Linked DNA regions of Homo sapiens. The protein of the gene in region 1 purifies or fractionates together with the protein of each later gene. This does not show direct contact. Each region holds a gene or a part of one and is shown in the gene's direction. Other genes may lie near its edges.

Region 1 (6,568 bases):
GCTTGAGCTTCTGCGACTCATGAGCATGGACCTGGTGGGCTGAGCTTCAGCTGTGAGGGGTCAGGCCTGCTGCAGGGAGAGCCAGCTGCAGCCAGTGCCCTGCGCTGTGCCCACAGTCCCTGAGACCCCAGGCTGAGGAGAGCAGCACTGAGCCCAACCTGGAACGGGCTCACGGCTACTGGAGCTGGGTGTGTGCTCACTGGTGTGGATGTGCAGAGCCGGGACTCGCTCTGCAAGCAGGCTGGTCCCACAACCTTGAGCCACCCACTACAGGGAGGCTGTGAGAAGGTCCCTGGCCCCTAGGAAGCTCCCTCAGTGGAGATGTTTTGGCTGCTTTAATAACAGTCATCCTTCCAAAGCCCTTCACAGCAATAAATGTTTCCATATTCCAGATGAGGTTTGCAGGGACCTGTCCTCTCTATCAGTGTCCACCTGGCGCCTCCCCCGAGTCCGGCCTGCCCTTGCTTCTCCCAGAGCTCATGGTGTTTTTCAGGGCCGCAGGCTGGCAGGGTGTCCTTCTCCCAGGGGACTGAGCCTAGGGAGAGCCAAGTGGAGGTGCCCAAGTGGAGGAGAAAGGAAAGGACCACAGAGAGGGGAGGGGAAGTGGGAGAGTCATGGTTAGGACCTCAGGCTGAGGCCTTCTGCCAAGCCAGGGGTCTGGTGTCACTCAACTGGGAAACACTGTCAGCACCCAAAGCTGCTCTCAGAGGTGGGGGTGACGGGACCACTGCATGTGGGAGGCACACGGGCCCTGTGGCATCCACAGCTGTGGTCTCCTTAGTGTCCTGTCACAGACTTGCAAATCAAAGCCCAGAGAGGCGGCAGCCAGCCACCCTCCCACCTCCCCAGCACTCCTGTGCCCACCCCATGCCTGTTTAGCCTCTGCCCTTGCTGCCCCCTTCCTCTGCTGTGTCCTTTTGGCAAGAGGAAGGTACCTCGGGGCAGATTTGGGTGGTCCTTGTGAGACCCAGGGCAGAGTGTGGTCCGGGGATACGGCTTCTGTCCAGCTCCCTGCCAGACAGCTGTCTGATCCTAAGCACAGACCAGCCTCTCGGGGGTTTTGTTCGGCCAGGAGGTGGGCTGAGGGGCAAGTGTGTGGAACATGCAGGAACAGGCTGTGCAGTGGCCCTCAGTAGTGGGGGGCTGGGGACTTCTGGGAGACTCCTTTGCTCCCATTCGCCATCCATCCCCTTTCCCTGATCAGTGGGCCCTGGCTCTGGACACTGAGTGGAGCAGACAGTCCTCCTGCCCCTATAGGTTCCACCTCCTGACTGGCACTGTGGCATCAGCATGGTCCAGCCCGTGCTGTCCTGTCAAGGACCACCTCCACAGCCAGTGGCCCCTTCCTCCATCTCAGAGACAGAGAGACGCTGGGCACAAAAGCCCTGTTGAAAGTTCACTTTGAAGGGAAGCCCATGGGGTCATGGCGACAACACTTGTTATGGAAAGGCCCTGGCGCCTCCAGCAGCTCCCTTGAGGTTCAGGTGACTGGAGCATCCACTGGGTGCCAGCAGTGCTGCTGGGAGGAGCAGGGCACAGACAGGGGCCAAAGCTTTCTGAGGATTCTCCATCTATAGCTGGAAAAGTCATTCCTCTCACTGCCTCCCCTCCTCGTAGCGAGAACCCTCTGCCCACAGTGGAGATTGCCATCCGGAACACGGGCGATGCGGACCAGTGGTGCCCACTGCTGGAGACTCTGACAGACGCTGAGATGGAGAAGAAGATCCGCGACCAGGACAGGAACACGAGGTACCCCTGGCCCTGTGGTCCTGGGCTCTGCCCACAGGCACCTGGCTTTCCAGGCAGAGGCAGGGCCATTGCCTTTCCCAGTCTCCCATGGTCTCTGAGACAGAGTACCTCTAGTGCTGCTAGAGGCAGGCAGGCTTCTGGGTGATAAGGCCCCATCCAAACGCCAGGGTATGTTTCCCTGCATGGAACAAACATAATTCCTCAGGCTGAGGGTCTGACCACAGCCCAGATCCAGGTTTTGGGGTCCCTGGAGTGATGAGCAGGGCCTGAGTGGCAGACAGGCGAGGCTGAGAGAAGGCTGGGTCTGACCCTGCTGGGGGCCCACATCCTGCCTCTGTTCCCACCCCTACACTTGGCTGCCCTGTAGAGCCTTGGGAAGGGCAGCGCCCAGGCTGGGAGCTGGCCCCGACTCATTGCCCTCCCCACTCCTCTTCCAGGCGGATGAGGCGTCTTGCCAACACGGCCCCGGCCTGGTAACCAGCCCATCAGCACACGGCTCCCACGGAGCATCTCAGAAGATTGGGCCGCCTCTCCTCCATCTTCTGGCAAGGACAGAGGCGAGGGGACAGCCCAGCGCCATCCTGAGGATCGGGTGGGGGTGGAGTGGGGGCTTCCAGGTGGCCCTTCCCGGCACACATTCCATTTGTTGAGCCCCAGTCCTGCCCCCCACCCCACCCTCCCTACCCCTCCCCAGTCTCTGGGGTCAGGAAGAAACCTTATTTTAGGTTGTGTTTTGTTTTTGTATAGGAGCCCCAGGCAGGGCTAGTAACAGTTTTTAAATAAAAGGCAACAGGTCATGTTCAATTTCTTCAACAGGTCATGTTCAATTTCTTCAAAGTTTTAACATAAAAATAATGAGAGCCAGGAGTGGGGCCGGGGCCTGGGGGGACGAAGGTGGTATGTGAACAAGGTTGGCACACAGGCCTCACCCTCCTCTGCCTCAGATTCCCAAGTGGGCAGGTGGGGGTGAATGGGGCTCCGGGTAGCACCTCAGCTCCTCTCAGCTCCCCTCAGCCTGTTCTCCTTCCAGACCCAGAGAGCTGAGAAGAGTAGCTGTGAGGCTCAGGGCAAGAGGCTCTCTGCCTTTCAGGAACAGCCCTAACCCTGCTCCCCTTGCTTGGCCTCAGGAAGGTGCCGCGAGCTCTCCTGCCGTCCCTGGGCCGCCCTGGCTCTGCTGTGTCCAGATGGTCAGGCTACTGCCAGCTGGGGCCTTGCTGCTCTGAAGTCCCCTGCGGAGGGCCCAGTCCTGTGTGGGCACTGCTGGGCTGTCGCCAGCCTGGGTGCAGGAGGGCTGTTCTAGCTCCAGTGGCACCCATAGCCAGGTCAGCTGGGGCCCTTTCCCACCCCAGCAGGTGCTGTGGCCTGGGCCAGCTCCTGCCTTACAAGCCAGCTGTGAGGAATATGGGAATAGCCCTCCCGGCCTGGTGCCAGCTCTTGGAGTTGACACGGTACAGGGAGGAGACACAGCCCAGGGTCCCTTCCCAGCCCTGCCTCCAAGGAGTTCATGTCCCCTCTGTTCTCATCTGTAATAGGGAGGTGTCCCCATTCTTCAGAATGGACACAGGATCTGGGAGGGCAGCAAACTGGCTCGCAGCTCCAGCCTTACTGAAGAGAATGGGCACAGATCCGGGCACAGATCCCAGCACAGACTGCTGCCACCCTCAGCTGTTGGCAGGTCCCATGCTGCCAGGGCAGGGCTAGGGTCAGAGGCTGCTGTGCTCCCTGGAAGTGGGGTAGGGCCCCATGTGGGGCAGAGGCAGAGCTCTGATTAGGGATTGGGGTTCTTGGTCGCTGAGATGTGAGAGGAGGGCTCCTTTGAGCACATGTTAGCATGGGACTCTTCCCAGGGAGTTTGCACTCAGGGCCTCTGCCCTCCATCAAAGAGTGGAACTCCCCAGAGCCCCATGCACAGCAAGGGGACAGCTGGGCCTTACTGGAAGGCCTTGAACAAAGGGGAAGATTCCCAGCCCAGCTGCTCTTAGACATGAACAGGTTTCATTGCTGAGGTGTTTGTTCTGTCCATGAGGTAGGAACCTCGGCAATGAAAGGGTGAGGCAGCCCTGTGTCTCCACAACTGGGGGGATGGAAGGAACCTTGGCTGCCTCACCCCACAGGTCGGGCAGGGCCACCTGGCTGGGAGGTGCCGGGAAGGCTGGGCCCTCACTCCTGACCGCCAGCTCACACCGCCGCAAAGCCATCTCCACAAGGTCTGGCTACAACACGGAGGGCAGACTCAACAGAGAACAGTGTTGTTACCATGAAAATGACAACCTGTCTTTGGAGGAGGCCCCGTGCCACTGAGCATCCAGAAATAAACCACAACATGGACAGGCTTAGAACAACAAGGAAAGCTGCCAGGTCAGAAGAGAAAAATGAGCCACAGGGGTCGGATAAGGCTCACACACGTCCTCAGCTAAAAAGGGCAGGAACAGAACCTTCCAGAAGTCCCTGCCTCACCCAGTCTCAGAACTCTGCTAAGGTGAAAACTTAGGCTCTGAGGTCATAGAAAGGGCAGAAGACCTAGTCCTGGCCCTCTTCTGCACCTGAATCCATGGGGCTTTGGCATCACCAGATGAAAAATGAGGCATACGCCCACCTGTCAGGGTGGCTGATGAGAGACAGGAGAGGCTAGATTGGCATCAGCCTGAAGGCACCACTGGCAGGAACATCTGTAGGCTGGTTTGGCACAACCTAGGAGACGCCTGTCCTGGCCCCAGCAGCCGAAATCTGGTGAACTTCCCCGCTGACTGGCAGGTAGCAGAGGCCTATGGTGGGCAGGACTTGCCCAAGGCCCTGGTGGGGCCAGGATGAGAACCCTGAGCCTGTCACCTGTGAGCTCAAAAGCTCTGCCTGGCAACCTGTGAGCTCAAAGCTCTGCCAGGCAACCATGGGCAGTTTCTTTGCCCTCTGTGGGCACCCCTATCCTACCACCTGCAGTTGGGCTGAGAGGCCACACTGAGTGAGGACGGGGCAGGCATAGAAGGATGTGGCCAGGTGAGATGGGGAAGCCAGTGCTGTGGGCCAAGAGACTGCAGCTCATTCTGTTTATTCAGGTGGGCCCTTGCATGGGCCCAGCCTTTAGGATGGGTTTTTTCTGCCCCAAGTAGGGGTCATGGGTAGGATGGAAGCTGCCAGAAGCCTCTTAGGCCTGGCCCTGGGTGGGGGTCACTGCTGCGGGGGTGGCAGATGGGGTCCTGGCTGTTCCTCAGGGAGGGGCAGGTAATTGGGGTCTTCTGCAGGGGCATCCAGGAGCAGCTTTCTGTGGGGAGGGGCCCGTGTTGAGCACAGGCCAGCACAGGTCCCCATCGGTGGGGATCCTTCTGAGGGTGGGGAGAGGGAGGGAGGGCTCTCAACACTCACAGGAAGCCAGGGGTCTGCAGGAGCCTCTTGCCTCCAGGCTGGTTGGGGAAGACGTCCTCCAGGAAGTAGTAGATATGGCCCACCGCAATCCCTGTGAGACAGCCACGGACTGTGGGGTCACCCTCCACAGCCCAGAGTCCTAGACCAGCAGAGCCTGCCCCAGGCCCCCATCCACAGCCTGGTGGCCCTGCAGGCCCCACAGCATGAGTGCCCCAAAGCCTTGCACAGAGTGCCAGCCCCGGGTTGGCCGTGAAGGACAAGCTTAAAAGGCCCAGAAGCAGGCAGGACCCAGGGAGGGGAGGGCCTGAGAATAGTGGAGGAGTGGGAGCCATGGGGCAGGAACCCTGACCCTCCCATCCTCACTCCCATCAGGACCGTGCAAGCATCAGTAGATCCGTCCTGACGATGCAAATTATGTGGGCCGGCTGGCTTGAGGGGCTGTAAGAGCACAGCAGCTGGGAGGGCAGGAAGATGGGGATGGAGCCAGGTGTGAGGAGAACTCCAGCAAGGATGGGAGAGGGGCCCCAGGGCATAAGCAGCGTGTCCTGAGGGGAGTGGCCAGCCTGGGGCGGACTAGATGTACCGGGAGGCTCACCCAGCAGGTCCACGAGGATGGAGTTGCCCAGCAGCAGCGAGAAGCCCATGAGCGCCCAAGGCAGGAACGGTGCCTGGAAAGTGAGCAGGCCGAAGAAGTTGACCCTCACCCGAGGGCTGCGGCGGCTCCACACGTACACCAGCATGGCCATGAGGGCCTGGCCCAGGAAGAACAGGCTGCCCAGGAGTCCCAGCAGCTGGGCCAGAGTCAAGGTGCTCCGGTGCAGGCCTCAGCCCAAGCCCAGGGCCCCTCTGACTTCCCAAGACCCTGGAATTCTTCCCCTCATCTCCCCTATGTGCTATTCCCTCATCAAGATGAGCCAGTCCAATAAAGGCGACACACTCCACGGGCTTCAGGTCCCACGAAATCTGCCCTGCACACCTACAGCCTCATCCCAGGGCCCAACCACTGCCTGTCCCTGCCCCAGTTTCTCCCGGCTACTCGCATTCAGGGCTCAGCTAGTGGCCCTGACAACCCACCTGGCTCTTTTGTGCATGGCTTTGTATTTTGCATACAGCACTGAAGATCTAGCCCTGACCCCTGCAGCTGAGCACAGAGTGGGCCCTCAACACATACTAAGCTGGAGACAGCGACTGTGTCCCTCTCTGGCATGGCTGTGTTGGCCCCAGGACCAACACAGGCTGGACGCCGAGGCGCCCTAGCCCGAGGTTCCAGAGCCTGCGGGAAGGATACGGTCATAAGGACGCCCCCGAAGAGAAACATGAAGACGAAGTCGGCCGTGCGGCCGCGGAAGGAGCCCTCTTCCAGCATGCGGCAGTAGCGGAACCTACGGCGTCGGTATAGGAAGTGCCACCAGGCGGGGCCTCAGTTTCCCCGTCCCGGCCTCTCTCCCAGCCCGGCCGG
Region 2 (7,620 bases), on another chromosome or scaffold:
TGCTGGGATTACAGGCGTGAGCCACTGTGCCTGGCCAAGAAGATAACATTTGAATAAAGACCTTAAGGAGGTAAGGGAGGGAGCCATGTAAATATATGGTTGATGGGTGCTGCAGTAGAGGAAGCGGAAGTGCAGAGACTTGAAGCAGGAGCTGGACTGTGCTTTCAGACGAGCAAGGAGGCCAGTGGATTTGGAGCAGAGACAGCACGGGTAGAGTTGTAGGAGGTGAGGTCAGAGAATTAACAGGATGATGCCTGGGGATGGATGGGGCCTTGTCAGCCGCTGTAGCTTGTACTCAAAGTGAGAAAGGAAGCTGAGCCCTTGAATGCAGGTCGCCCAATGCAGAGATCTGGGGTGGCTCCTCTGTATCCACCTCGGCATCTCATCTAGCACAAGCCTTTCACCTAGAAAATGACAAGATGTGATTTTTTTTTTCTTTTTGAGATAGAATCTCGCTCTGTCACCCAAGCTGGAGTGCAGTGGCACAATCTCGGCTCACTGCAACCTCTGCCTCCTGGGTTAAAGTGATTCTCCTGCCTCAGCCTCCCTAGTAGCTGGGATTACAGGCGCGCGCCACCACACCCAGCTAATTTTTTGTGTCTTTAGTAGAGACGGGGTTTCACCATATTGGCCAGGCTGGTCTCGAACTCCTGACCTTCTGATCCAACAGCCTCGGCCTCCCAAAGTGCTGGGATTACAGGTGTGAGCCACCGTGCCGGACCTGATTATTATTATTATTATTATTATTATTATTATTTTAAGAAAATGGTGTCAGGCTGGGTGTGGTGGCTCACGCCTGTAATCCCAGCACTTTGGGAGGCCGAGGTGGGTATATCACCTGAGGTCAGGAGCTCGAGGCAAGCCTGGCCAACATGGTGAAACTCCGTTTCTACTAAAAACACAAAAAATTAGCCGAGTGTGGTGGTGGGCACCTCTAGTCCCAGCTACTCAGGAGGCTGAAGCAGGAGAATCACTGGAACCCAGGAGGCGGAGGTTGCAGTGAGCCAAGATCGCACTACTGCACTCCAGCCTGGGAAACAAAAGCAAAACTCCGTCTTAAGGGAAAAAAAGAAAAGAGGCTGGGCGCAGTGGCTCATGCTTATAATCCCAGCATTTTGGGAAGTCGAGGCAGGCGGATCACCTGAGGTCGGGAGTTCGAGACCAGCCTGACCAACATGGAGAAACCCCGTCTCTACTAAAAATACAAAATTAGCCAGGCGTGGTGGCGCATGCCTGTAATCCCGGCTACTCAGGTGGCTGAGGCAGGAGAATGGCTTGAACCAGGGAGGCGGAGGTTGCGGTGAGCCGAGACTGCGCCACTGCACTCCAGCCTGGGTGACAAGAGCGAAACTCTGTCTAAAAAAGAAAGAAAAAGAAAAAAAAAGGGTATCAACACAGAGCATTTGGGTAGGCTATGAGGAATAGGTGGTAGGTGCCCACTTTGATCACTCTCTTACACAGACCGAGCCCCAGTGGAAGATGAGGTGGGGAATGTAGGACTAGGTGGACAAATGTAGGGAGAAAACAAGGTTGGGGGGGTCTCTGGGACTTTGCCCCAGGAAGACGACTGGCTGGGTGAGCTGGGGGAGACATGTGTGCAGGGAACCTGTGCAGCTGGGAGGAGCGCTGGGCTGTGGACGAGAAGGAAGCTACAGACAAGAAACCTCACGTGGGAGGATTTGGACAAGGGTGAGACAGACACAGGGGCTGTGTGCCTCAACCAGGGGGATCTATGGGCAGAACTGGAGAAGTCTCAAGGGCTGGCCTCTCTCTTGGCACGTATGTTCTGCCTTTCTACTGCTTTCCTCACCTTCACCCCAAGGACAAGGAGTGTGTCTTACTCAACTTCACATCACCTGCAGTGTCCACTGTGCTAGGGCGTACAGCAGGTGCTTAGGCAATCTGCGGTTATTTTGGATCGGCTGGGTCTGAACAACAAATGTGCCACCTTTGATCCCGTTATTTCTAGAATCATCTTTTCACTCCACATGCTGGTTCAGCTTTTGCACTCCTCAGTCAGGCAGAAGCTATTTCTGGCCCCCTCGCCAGTAAGATGACATATGCTTGCCCTATGTTGCTTGATCATGAAAGGCTGACTCATAATCAGAGGCTGTCTCAAGTTCAGGGCTAGCTAGGCATTTCTCTGGAGCACATGGAAATTAGTTTCTTTATAGGTGAGAACAGCCACTACCAATCTGCTTTCTGTCCCAAGCTGTGTCCTGAAACAGCTGCTACAGGACCCTCTCCGCATACTGCAAGCGTGGGTGACACCTGCCTGCAATTGGGTGGGGGCAAAGAGGACAAGAGCTTGCACTGGATTCAACATTCATGCAAACATTTATTGAGCATCTGTAGCATCTGTGAACACTGCCCTGGGAGTAACAGCACCTACCCTATTTTTAGAGGTCAGCTTCAAGATTAAGGTTGTCATAACACCTCTTTTTTCTTTGCTGCAGACTAGGAATAAAAGCCATAGCATCTTACACCTCCCCTCCCCTACTTAAGCTGGCATTTATCAAATAGCATTTTACTTATTTGTTTAATTAATTTATTTTTTCCAAGATGGAGTTTTGTTCTTGTTGCCCGGGCTGGAGTGCAATGGTGCGATCTTGGCTCACTGCAACCTCCACCTCCTGGGTTCAAGCGATTCTCCTGCCTCAGCTTTCCAAGCAGCTAATTCTGTATGTTTAGTAGAGATGGGGTTTTGCCACGTTGGACAGGCTGATCTCAAACTCCTGACCTCAAATGATCCACCCACCTTGGCCTCCCAAAGTGCTGGGATTACAGGCGTGAGCCACCATGCTCCGCCTAGGCTAGCATTTATCAAATAGCATTTTAAATATGCTTTGGGAAGCTGGACCCAGTGACTCACGTCTGCAATCCCAGCACTGTGGGAGGCCGAGGAAGGAGGATCAATTGAGTCCAGGTGTTCAAGACCAACCTGGGCAACATAGGAAGACCCTGTCTCTACCAAAAAAAAAAAAAAAAAAATGTCAGCGAGGCATGGTGGCCCTCGCCTGTGGTCTCAGCTACACAGGAGGCTGAGGCAGAAGGATCACTTGAGCAAGGCCCTGTACCAAAAAATAAGTAAAAGTAAAAAATAAATATTTTTTTTTCGTCTGAATGTTCTACTAAACTGGAAGCTCAGCCAGTCACAGTGGCTCATGCCTGTAATCCCAGCACTTTGTGAGGATCCCTTGAGACCAGGAGTTCAAGACCAGCCTGGACAACATAGTGAGATCCCCTCTCCACATGAATAAATAAACTGGGCCGGGTGCGGTGGCTCACGCCTGTAATCCCAGTACTTTGGGAGGCCGAGGCAGGTGGATCACGAGGTCAGGAGTTCAAGACCAGCCTGACCAACATGGTGAAACCCCATCTCCACTAAAAATAAAAAAATTAGCTGGGTGTGATGGCGGACGACTATAATCCCAGCTACTCGGAAGGCTGAGACAGAAAATTGCTTGAACCCGGGAGGCGGAGATTGTAGTGAGCCGAGATCACACCACTGTACTCCAGCCTGGGCAAAAGAGCGAGACTCCGTCTCAAAAAAAAAAAGGCCAGGCGTGGTGGCTCACGCCTGTAATCCCAGCACTTTGAGAGGCCAAGGCGGGCAGATCACGAGGTCAGGAGTTCCAGACCAGCCTGACCAACATGATAAAACCCCGTCTCTACTAAAATTACAAAAATTAGCTGGGCGTGGTGGCACCCGCCTGTAATCCCAGCTACTCAGGAGGCTGAGGCAGAAGAACCGCTTGAACCCGGGAGGCGGAGGTTGCAGTGAGCGGAGATCACACCACTGCACTCCAGCCTGAGTCACAGAGCGAGACTCCGTCTCAATAAATAAACAAACTGGAAGCTCTTTGAAACCAAAACCACGTATGTCTTCAGCTTTAGGTACAGAGTCTTGCACAAAATAGACATCTTTTTATTTATTTACTTTAGAGACGGGGTCTCGTTTAGACATGGGGTCTCCATATGTTGCCCAGGCTGGAGTGCAGTGGCTATTCACAGGTGCGATCATATCATAGCTGACGGCAGCCTCAAATTCCTGGGGTCAAGTGATCCTCCCGCTTCAGCCTCCCAAATACTTGGGACTACTAGATACTCGAGAAAAGGCAAGAATGTGGTCTGAATGCTGGGAAAGCAGTTCATCTGGTAAAGAGAGGAGGGGATTCCAGGTGAGGAACAGGTGTGTGCAAAGACCGGAAGCCATCCTTAAGAAAGGCGTGGTTGGAGCACAGCGTAGGAGCCAGAGGGCAAAGGTGCTGGGCAGGAGAGGCGGGAGGACAGAGATGGCGCAGGAGTGCGGTTCCACAGGGTCAGGTTCCTAACACGCTGGCCAGAGCAGGGAGCCGACCTCCAAACTCTCAGGGAAGAGAACCAGGTTGCCCACCGGCGGCACCTCGCACCTCGCCCTGACCACAAGCACGTGCGCCCAACCCGCCTCGCACCCCGGCCCGGGTAGGGGGCTCAGGGGACTCCCGGGGCACTCAGGAGGGACGCCCCGGGCGGGGCGCGCAGGCGCGCTGAGGCCGTGAGCCCCAAGGGGCGGGCGGGTGCGCGCGCTTTCTCGCGCACGCGCGCACGGAGGGGGCGACGGCCGCTGTGACGCTGCGGCGGCGGCGGGCGGGCGGCGGCGCGTGAGGCGCGCGATCCCCGGTGTCTTGGGAGCAGTGCCCCGGCCCCCGCCGCTCCCGCCGCCGCCATGTCGGGCCGGTCGGTCCGGGCGGAGACCCGCAGCCGGGCCAAGGACGACATCAAGAAGGTGATGGCGGCCATCGAGAAAGTGCGGAAATGGTGAGGGGCCGGAGCTTAGGGGGCTGGCGGGGGTCGCGGATCCAGGCCCTGAGGAGCGTGGGACTGGCGGGTCAGGTGGGAGCCGACCGGCCGGCGCTGGGGGAGGGGGGTGCGGGAGAAGGCGGGAGGAGGGCGCCGCTGGCGTCGGCGTGAGGTCAGAGGGCGCGCCGGCCGCGGCCAATCAGCGGTCCTCCCGGCTCGCGGGCCCGCCCACCTGCTGCGGCTGCTGCCGCGCGCCGCCTGGGAGGGGATTCCGGCTTCCGGCCCGGACTGGAGCTGCCTGGCGTCGGTGCCCGCGCCCGGCCCAGCCCGGGGCCCGCCCTCCCCTCTTCCTGGGCAGTGGCCCCGCCTGCGTTTCCAGGCTTCCTCTTGATAATAGCGAGTAGCCCTGGAGTGGTGTCAGCCCGCCAGGCTGAGCGCTCTGCGTATTCAGGCGTTGAAGTTGGGTGAGTTTCTGGGTTAGTCCATCTGTCAAGGGAGCAAGCCTGGTGTCATCCAGAGGGATACCCCTCCCTTTCCCCCAGTAACCGGCCCCTGCGCCGCGAGCTTGGTAGGCATTTTCTCTTGCTGCCCCGGCGGCTGTCAGGAGAGTCCTTTGCAAACTATGTACCAGCCTCCCTCTAATTTCCCTGCTTCTGCTCTTGTTCATTCCCCAGTCCGTTCATCATTTGCACTGTGTGATTTTATTTTTCTCACTTCCAAGTAGCAGAGTGGTCTTTTTAAAGTGCACATCCTTACTTGGGAGGCTGTGGTGGGAGGATTGCTGGGACCCAGGAGTTGGAGGCTGCAGTGAGCTATGATCGTGCCACGGCACTCCAGCCTGGGCTACGGAGAGAGACCCCGTGTCTAAAATGTTCATGGAAGATGCCGATTGAGCCCCTGTTTAGTATCCGGAACTCCGATACATACTATATCGGTGTGTATCGGAGTCATCACATTAAACTTTCACAGCCAACTTCGTCAGCTCTTTTGTATAGCCAATTACTACTAATAATTTAAAAACCCAGGTCTGGCTAGGTGAGGTGGCTCAGGCATGTAATCCCAGCACTTTGGGAGGCTGAGGTGGGCGGATCGCTTGAGGCCAGGAGTTTGAGACCAGCCTGGGCAACATAGTGAGACCCCGTCTCTACAGAAAATAAAAGTTCAAGTAGATGTTACCTCCCGCCAGGAAGCTTTCCTTAACTCCTCCCATCCCTTTACCTCCTTTAAGGTCGTTGGTACGTTGGACTTTATTTGTGTGTTTATCTGTCCATTTCCCCACAAGAGGGAAGTTCCTTCTCTTTTTTATGTCTGAGGGCTTCATATATAGTTGGGTTTCAGTATAAATATTAGTTTAACATACTCATGGTTTTCCTCGTCCACCTTTAATCCTCCGAGGTTTTGGTGAAACCTAAGAACAGGTACACCTTTCTCTTCTCCCCATTTTTGACCCCCCCGCCCCTAGCAGGCTAGGCTGAAGGGCCATCCCCTGTCACCTGGAACTCTGTACCAGCCTCCCTGTAAACTCTCTGCTTCTGCTCTTGCTCATTCCCCAGTCTGTTCATTTGCACTGAGTGATTTTATTTTTCTCTCTTCCGAGTAGCGGAGTGACCTTTTTAAAGTGCACAGCCTTATTTGGAAGGCTGTGGTGGGAGGATCGCTGGAGCCCAGGAGTTGAGGCTGCAGTGAACTATGATCATGCCATGGCACTCCAGCCTGGGCAACACAGTGAGACCCCATCTGTAAAAAAATATATAAAATGTGCATCTTATCCTAGCACCCCTAGTAATGCTTCAGTGGTTCCCTTCTTGCTTTTAGGATAAATACTGAAGAAGGCCCTCCTTCCTGCCTCACTTGGCTGGCTCTTTCCCAGGATGCCCGCTGTCTTACCAATGAAGTCACTCTGCTCTTCCTGCCGCCTGGCATTCTTCTTCCTCTCTCCTCTCCTCCCTCTTGCCGAGTTAACTCCTAGCTCAGCTCAAAAGTTGCTTCCTTAGGTTTACCACTTGAGATTCCCAATCTAGATCAAGTCTCCTTCATAGACCTTTCCACAGTTGTATTAGATGGACTCATAAGACATTTCCTATATTTGATTTCTTTTTTTTTGAGACAGAGTCTTGCTCTGTCACCCACGTTGGAGTGCAATGGTGCGATCTTGGCTCACGGCAACCTCTGCTTCCCGGGTTCAAGCAATTCTGCCTCAGCCTCCCGAGTAGCTGATTATAAGTGTACACCACCACACCCAGCTAATTTTTTGTATTTTTGTGGAGACCGGGTTTCACCATGTTGGCCAAGCTGGTCTTGAACTCCTGAATTCCAAGTGGTCCTCCCACCATGACCTCCCAAAGTGCTGGAATTACAGATGTGAGCCACTGTGCCTGGCCTCCTGTATTTGACTAATTAACCTACAAAAATGGCAATTTGATATGGTTGAACCTGATGATTAAGTGACTAATCTTGAATTGAGCTATTCATGTCTGTTTCCAGATATAAGACAGGGTCTGTGAGGGCAGGGACTGTGGATCTTGTTCCCTGCATCACCAGGGCCTAGCACAGCCTGTTGTATACTAATTGGTTGAATAAATGAGAAAATGGAGTGGTCTGTTCAGGAATTAATTTTAGTTATTTTCTAAGACTTTAATTCGCTCCTTCTGTTACATCACAGTCTCTTTACACTCCCAGTATGTCATCTGTTTTTTTTTTTTTTTTTTGAGACCCAGTCTTGCCTGTCACCCAGGCTGGAGTGCAGTGGCGTGGTCTTGGCTCACTGCAGTGTCCGCCTCTGGGGTTCAAGCAGTTCTTCCGCCTCAGCCTCCTGAGTAGTCGGGACTACAGGTGTGC
Region 3 (7,024 bases), on another chromosome or scaffold:
GTAACTGAATATAATGGAAAAATGCTTTCACTCAGAGCTTACACTCAGAGCTTACATTCTAGTAGCAGGAAGCAGACAAATGGGGGTAACTCCTGCTACTAAGATGTGCAAAGAAGACAAAACATTTTAGGAACTTGCCAAAATCAGTGAAATCTCCCTTTTTGTCAGGCCCACATTGATTCTTTTGAGATTAAAAATTACAGAATGCCAGAAGATAATTCAGTCAAAAGTATTTCTCTTCAGTGCAGTAAAATATTAAAAGAAAAAATATTTCTCTACAAGCCTCTTAAATGTTTCAGACATTCACAATAGCACCTAGACTTTTGTAATGAACAGCTGTGCACCCACCCCGACTTAACAAATATTTTACTTTTGCTATATTTGCTTCGGTGTTTTTTTCTTAAAATACACCGAAATTGAAGCTCTCTTTGTGTACTTTGTCGTTTGTAATCCTCCCTCCCTCCCAGCCTTAAGAAGTAATCACCATTGTGATTATTTTATCCATGTTTTTGTGAATATTTTACCCATGTTTTTGTACTTTTGCTACATATTTGTTATCAATCTGTAAACCTTTATGACATTAGGAACTAAGAAACTTAGTCCCTTCGTTAGGGGGATAATGAAATGTATTTAGTGTTTGTGAAACATAGATGGTATGTATTTGGACAATTCTGTAACTTTGCTTTTTTTATTTTTATTTTTCCATAGCTTATTGGGGAACAGGTGGTGTTTGGTTACATGATTAAGTTCTTTAGTGGTGATTTGTGGGATTTTGGTGGACCCATCACCCAAGCAGTGTACACTGCACCCTATTTGTAATCTTTTATCCCTCGCCCCCCTCCCACCATGCCTCCCGTCTACCATGATGATCCTGTTTTAAATAAGAAAATACCATTTCGCAGGCTCCAGATGTTCTGGCATCCTCCCTGTGGATTTCCCAGTGCCTGCAGCTCACAGGACAACAGGGGCTGTGGTAGAGTCACCTATGAGATCCTGGAGTAGTGGATGGAGGAGATGGAACAGTGAAGACGGAAACTGAGCTCAGTATCCGGGTGCCAGGAGACAAAGGCCCTTTGCTTTTTTTCATTTAATATTCTGATCTACCCCTGTTGACACATGTTAAGTATAGTTCATTTTGACTGCTATGTATTATGTTCCATTGTGTGAACATACTGAAATTGTACACTTCAATACTATACTGGATCTCCTTGGGTGTATTTAAGAGGTTTTGTTTTTCTAAGTAGTTGGTTATATACAACTAAAACCTCAAGAGAACTATCTAAAGCAATTTCAGCAAGGTGATTTGGTACAGCATTAATAAACAGAAATCAGTAACACTTAGTGACCAAGTCTGTTGGAAGAACAAAGACCCCCATTTGTAATAACAAAATTTTTAGAAATAATATGTAAAGAAGCTATGGTTCTTGTGTCTAGTAAGGTCAATGTAACATAGTAAGATGTCAGAATACCCTAATACTTTAAAAAATTCATATAGGATAAAAATGATATTTGAAATTGGCAAGGAAAGACATTATTTTGTAAGTGGAATTGGGACAACAACTGGTAACCAAATGGAAAACCCAGTTTTCTGCCCTCCACTAGAAGATTTAAATAGGAAAAGATAAAACTACCAAAAACCTAAACTCTTAAAGCAAATGGATTGAAGAAGGCCTAAGTGTGACACCAAACTCAACTATAAAAGATATATTTGATAACAAAAAAAAAATTAGTTCAGTGGACCAACAAAAACTTAGAAGACAAGTCAAGAAAAATGACAAAAGACAGAGTGGGAGGCAGATTTGTAACTCATCCAGGTCAAAAGGCTCATATCTAAAGATAGTAGAGGAACAAAATGTATAAGGATGTGAACTGGGAAACAAATACATATAAATAGTTTGTAAATATGAAAAGATCTTTAACCTCAGTAAATAAAAAGCTATAGAGAGACTTATTTTTTAACTTAGTTTTTTAAACCTATTATGTTTATTTATTTTTTCTTTTTTTGAGACGGAGTCTCGCTGTTGCCCAGGCTGGTGTGCAATGGCGCAATCTCGGCTCACTGCAACCTCCGCCTCCCAGGTTGAAGCCATTCTCCTGCCTCAGCCTCCTGAGTAGCTGGGATTACAGGCGCCTGTCACCACGCCCAGCTAATTGTTCGCATTTTTAGTAGAGACGGGGTTTCACTATGTTGGCCAGGCTGGCCTCGAACTCCTGACCTCATGATCCACCCACCTTGGCCTTCCAAAGTGCTGGGATTACAGGTGTGAGCTGCCGCACCTGGCTGTTTATCTCTTTTTTTTAGAGAAAGGATCTCGGTCACCCAGGATGGAGTGTGGTAGCCTGATCATATCTCACTACATCTTAGAACTTCTAGGCTTAGGGTATTCTCCCACCTCAGCCTCCCAAGTAGCTGGGACTACAAGTGTGCACCATCACACCTAGCTGATTTTTACATTTTTATTTTGGAGAGATGGTGTCTCCCTGTGTTGCCCAGGCTGGTCACAAACTCCTAGGCTCAAGCGATTCTCCTGACTCAGGCATGAGCCACCGTACCCGGCCTAAACCTATCATGTTACAGACTTAGAAAGCAACTATTGTCAAGTGTTTGAGGAAACTCAGGTCAGGTTTGGTAAACTAAGATATTAACTCAAGTAAAGCTCTTTAATTCATTTAATGAAGGTGCCACATTGTCTCAGTTCTCTATGGCATGGGTGAATGCTGTTCTAAGTCAGCATTGGTACTCTAAGCTAGTTACATCATATCTAAGCTTTGCCCTTCTACCAGAGCTGCTAGCATTCTGTCAATGGGCAATTATTTGAAGTTCTTACATTGAAGTTAGTCACCTACATCTTCTGTTTTTTATGGTTTTGATGTAGTAATACTGCTGAAGTTTTTTTGATAACTGCGATTCATAATATTTGTTATTCATATTGTGATATAAATGATAAGGGCTTTTGAAAACAAGTAGTAATCATTTCAATAGCTTAGGATCTCCACCATAATCTTAGGAAAATTACTAACCTCTGTGCCTCAGTTGCTTCATCATTTAAAATGAGGAAAATAATAGTCCCTACTTAATAGGTTTGTTGTGAGGATTGAGTTAATAACATAGTTAATGCTCAGTAAGGGTTAGCTGCTATTTTTTTTTCTTTTTTTTTTGAAAGAGTCTCACTCTGTTGCCCAGGTTGGAGTGCAGTGGCATGATCTTGGCTCACTGCATCCTCTGCTTCCTAGGTTCAGGTGATTCTCATGCTTCAGCCTCCCAAGCAGCTGGGAGTACAGGTGTGCACCACCACACCTGGCTAATTTTTGTATATTTAGTAGAGACGGGTTCTCACCATATTGTCCAGGCTGGTCTTGAACTCCTTACCTCAAATGATCCACCCGCCTGGGCCTCCCAAAGTGCTGGGATTACAAGCATGAGCCACCGCGCCTGGCTTGCTATTGTTATGAGGTAAAGGTAGATAGATGGGTGAGAGTGGTGCCAGGGGAAGTGTTAAATTTTTGAGTGTTCCTTTAGATGCCAGATGGGTTGTATCTGAGCCTTTTATTGCAGTTTGATGCCTACTAGTGTGAAGACTACTAGGTCATAGTGGATAGAGAAGCAATCTTTTGGAGACCTGATTTTAGCAAGGATACGAATAATATTTGACAACTTTGGGGGGATCTTGATGCCTCTGTAATTTACTCAAGGATAATCTCAAGAAAAATGGCATTAAGTAGATTACAGAAAAAATAGAACTATCATATTGTTATTATTGGCTATTTACATGAGCAATGCGGAGAAATGTTTAGGATTACAGCATTTAGAAGCTTCTCAATTGCTGCATTTCCTCACTGTACCACAAGATGGCAGATACTGCATTTAAAATTTTTTTTTCTGTGTGTTTTCTCTTATAGTCACTTGGTGGCCATGTAACAAGCAGAGCAACATGTATTAACAGATTCTTTTTGAATGCAATATTGGATTAAAAACTTTGAATTAAACTACAATTAAGTTTACTGATTTAGGTTTTCCTATAAGAATTATAACACTAATTTCTAAGTTTTACATCTGCAAAACACAGTAGAGTGTATCTGGTAGTCATTGACTAATTGTGACTTTGCTAGTCAGACAAAATGGAACTGAATATTAGAGCCAGAATAATTTTCTGTTTTGACTGGTGGTAAGAATCAGTTAGTATACAGAATGGGAAAGAATTGAAATTTATTTCTAGGAATTATAGTTATAGTGAAGTTAATATTCAGGGGCATTGGGTGCTTGTTCCACGACTTTTGTTTACTGAACTAAGTACCTAACCCCTTTGGTCTTTGAACACTGCAGAGTTATGATTAGGATTATTAATGAAAAATTCTTTTTTAGTAGAACAAACAGTTAAGGACAGAAGACACCTTGATTAGATTCTGTTATTTGCTCTTTTTATTAAGATTGTTTTTACTCTAAATGTTAAAGAAATGTATAATTATTTCTAAGGTAAAATGAGTAGCAGGATTCTGAATAGGAGATTTTTTTTGGCCAGACCCATTTTGCAGCCAGTGGTTTGTATTTAGGAGTGAGTTGAACAAAGAAGACTCTAATCTGTTTTTGTGTTGTGGATTTTTTATTCTATTGATAAATCAGTAGCTTCCAGCTTCTCTTGTATCCTCTACTAGTCATCTTTTTTGTTTCTTCAGAAATAAACATCCAGGGTCACTTCCCTGCCCTTGCCATATACTTACTAGGATGATGTACAGGTAAAACTTTTAAAGGAAAGTACGGACAGGCAATTCCTAAAGTAAAAGAGAGCACATTATCAAAACTGGCTGTACTTAACAAATACCAACAAAAAGTCATTACACTTCTGGCAACAAATAATGTTTGATTTAAAAAGACAAGAATTTCCCCTTTTGCTCTTATTTTTTAAATATGCTATGTCCTTAAGTGAGAAATGCACTTCAAAAATTTTCTTATTCTGAAGTCTAGCCGGAAAGTTTGAACTTGTGTTGCCTTTGGCTAGACTAGGTGAAATTAAGGGGCTTAAGAGGGCACTGTTGTGTGGCCCTGTGGTAGATAATAGCCCTCCAAGCATGAGGATGGGAGATCTACCATTCACCAGTATTTCCAAAGTTATATTCTTAAAAAGGCTAGATTTCTAATTTCCGTAGAATCTAGGTATGTTCTTTTCAACTCAGCATCTGATAAGAAAGTTTGGGCAAGTAGGTGCGAAAAATTTACTCTAGATACCATTTTCCAGGAAAAAATATAATTCAAGTCCAACGTATTACTAGCTGTCACCTTCCCCAACAATCAAATAAGCATTGTTATTGTCAAACACATTTACTTGTATAGTTCAGTGTTATATGTAATGGACTTAGGTATAATTCCTGTGCTATTCCCTTTTGATGCCAAACACCCTTTTGTAAGCTGTTTTGTTTGAAATCCAAATTTATATGTCTTAAAGTAAATGGCAGCATTGGGCTTTCTTAATGTAATGACTCTTCTGCCATCCTATTTCTAGAGTTAGGCAGAAAATTCTGTAAATCTATCTTATTTCCAGTCTGTTTGTGACTATGGTGGGCAATAAATCTGATTTCCCAGAAAAACACATCTGGACCCCTATAGGTAAGGTAAACAAGCCTCATCTTAAATTGTTTGTACTTCCGACCTGACCTCAAAACACCATCATCATCTAGAGCAGCAACAAGTAAAGAACAATGCACTGGAAATCACATATATGGGTCTAGCACCAGCCTTTACATTACACAACTTTGCTTTGGGCAAGTCATTTAAATTTCTGTGCTTCAGTTTACTAAATCTATGAAACTGACTAGGTAACAGCTGACATGCTTTTCCAGCACTCCGTCTTTTACCTGTCTGATGTCACAAATTGATCATTCCTTTCTGGCCTTGAGATGCGTATCAACCCAGATAGTCATTAACCCAGATAGTTGGCATTCAGGATAAAATGTTTTTGCCTTTCCTGTCCTGCAAGCTCTTTAAAGTCCAAAATATGCCTTTATATCTTTATGTGTAATAGGTATGAAATCTATTTCTTGGTTGTTGAATAGGATAGGCTTATTAGACATTCTAAAGTCAACTTTTTTCTCATATTTAAACATTTACCCGTAGAAATTCAGTTTTTTAAAGTTTTAAGTCAGTTGATTGTACCAAACATTACTATTAAAAAAAAATCAAAGTCAGAGACCAGAGTTTCCCTGCATCAGCGTTCAGTCAGGAGACAGGAACTATACTAATTTGAACATGTAAAGTTAAATATAATCCTTAATAATAACAGGATTGGAATAAGGGATAAAAGAAAGAGAATTCCTTCTATATATATGTATACACACACATATATATATATACATGTGTATATATGTGTGTGTATGTATATTATATAATATACATACACACACACAAAGAATGTCAGACAAGGAGCAGCCACCATTCTGCTTACTTTCACTGGATTAAGAGTTTCATAAGGGCAAGGGTTTTGTTTGTCTTACACTCCACTGGGGATTAATCTCCAGTGTCTAGAACAGTGCCTAACACATAAATAAAGCCTCAATTATTATTTGTGGAATGGAATGGAATTTGAGTGAAATGGAATGGGAATAGAATGGACTGGAATGGAAATAGAAGTGGGAAGGGGAATGGAAGGGGATAGAAGAGGATTGAAGAGGACAGAAGGAGATGGGATAAGATGGGATGGGATAGGATCGAATCTCAGGTCCAGGAGTCAGAATAACTGAATCCTATTCCAGTTCTGCCATCAACAAGTCCTGTGAAATTTGGAAAGTCACTTAACCCTCTGGCCTTGTAGAATATCTCAGTGGGCATGTCTGATGTTTCTTCATGGTTAGATATAGGTTGCATGTTTTGGGCAAGAATATCACAGGAATGATGCTGTGTTCTCAGTGCACCCAGTCAGGTAATGCATGATTTCAATTTCTCTCATTACTGATGATGTTAACTTTAATCACTTAGTGAATGAGAACATGAGCATCATTTTGAAAGCAAACTGCAAAGTTTTGATGTCAACAT

Evidence for each region. The genes of interacting proteins can lie anywhere in the genome.
Region 2: the proteins of SMARCB1 (region 1) and BCL7B purify together in Homo sapiens (affinity purification with mass spectrometry; 6 studies listed by BioGRID and IntAct, with this or other methods). This does not show direct contact.
Region 3: the proteins of SMARCB1 (region 1) and HDAC2 purify together in Homo sapiens (affinity purification with mass spectrometry; 5 studies listed by BioGRID and IntAct, with this or other methods). This does not show direct contact.

The regions. Positions count from the first base shown.
Region 1 is NC_000022.11:23,831,955-23,838,522, forward strand, and holds the end of SMARCB1 (SWI/SNF-related matrix-associated actin-dependent regulator of chromatin subfamily B member 1), read left to right. Parts: intron 1-1,617; coding exon 1,618-1,749; intron 1,750-2,186; coding exon 2,187-2,226; 3' UTR 2,227-2,872; coding exon of another isoform or gene 2,873-3,025; 3' UTR 3,026-4,914; coding exon of another isoform or gene 4,915-5,008; 3' UTR 5,009-5,105; coding exon of another isoform or gene 5,106-5,200; 3' UTR 5,201-5,704; coding exon of another isoform or gene 5,705-5,900; 3' UTR 5,901-6,055; downstream 6,056-6,568. Other genes in the region: DERL3 (derlin-3), read right to left, coding at 2,873-3,025, 5,110-5,200, 5,705-5,777, 6,184-6,491.
Region 2 is NC_000007.14:73,554,667-73,562,286, reverse strand, and holds the start of BCL7B (B-cell CLL/lymphoma 7 protein family member B), read left to right. Parts: upstream 1-4,596; 5' UTR 4,597-4,708; coding exon 4,709-4,800; intron 4,801-5,050; exon of another isoform or gene 5,051-5,246; intron 5,247-7,620. UniProt on the Homo sapiens protein: Positive regulator of apoptosis. Plays a role in the Wnt signaling pathway, negatively regulating the expression of Wnt signaling components CTNNB1 and HMGA1.
Region 3 is NC_000006.12:113,933,125-113,940,148, reverse strand, and holds part of HDAC2 (histone deacetylase 2), read left to right. Parts: 3' UTR 1-7,024. UniProt on the Homo sapiens protein: Histone deacetylase that catalyzes the deacetylation of lysine residues on the N-terminal part of the core histones (H2A, H2B, H3 and H4).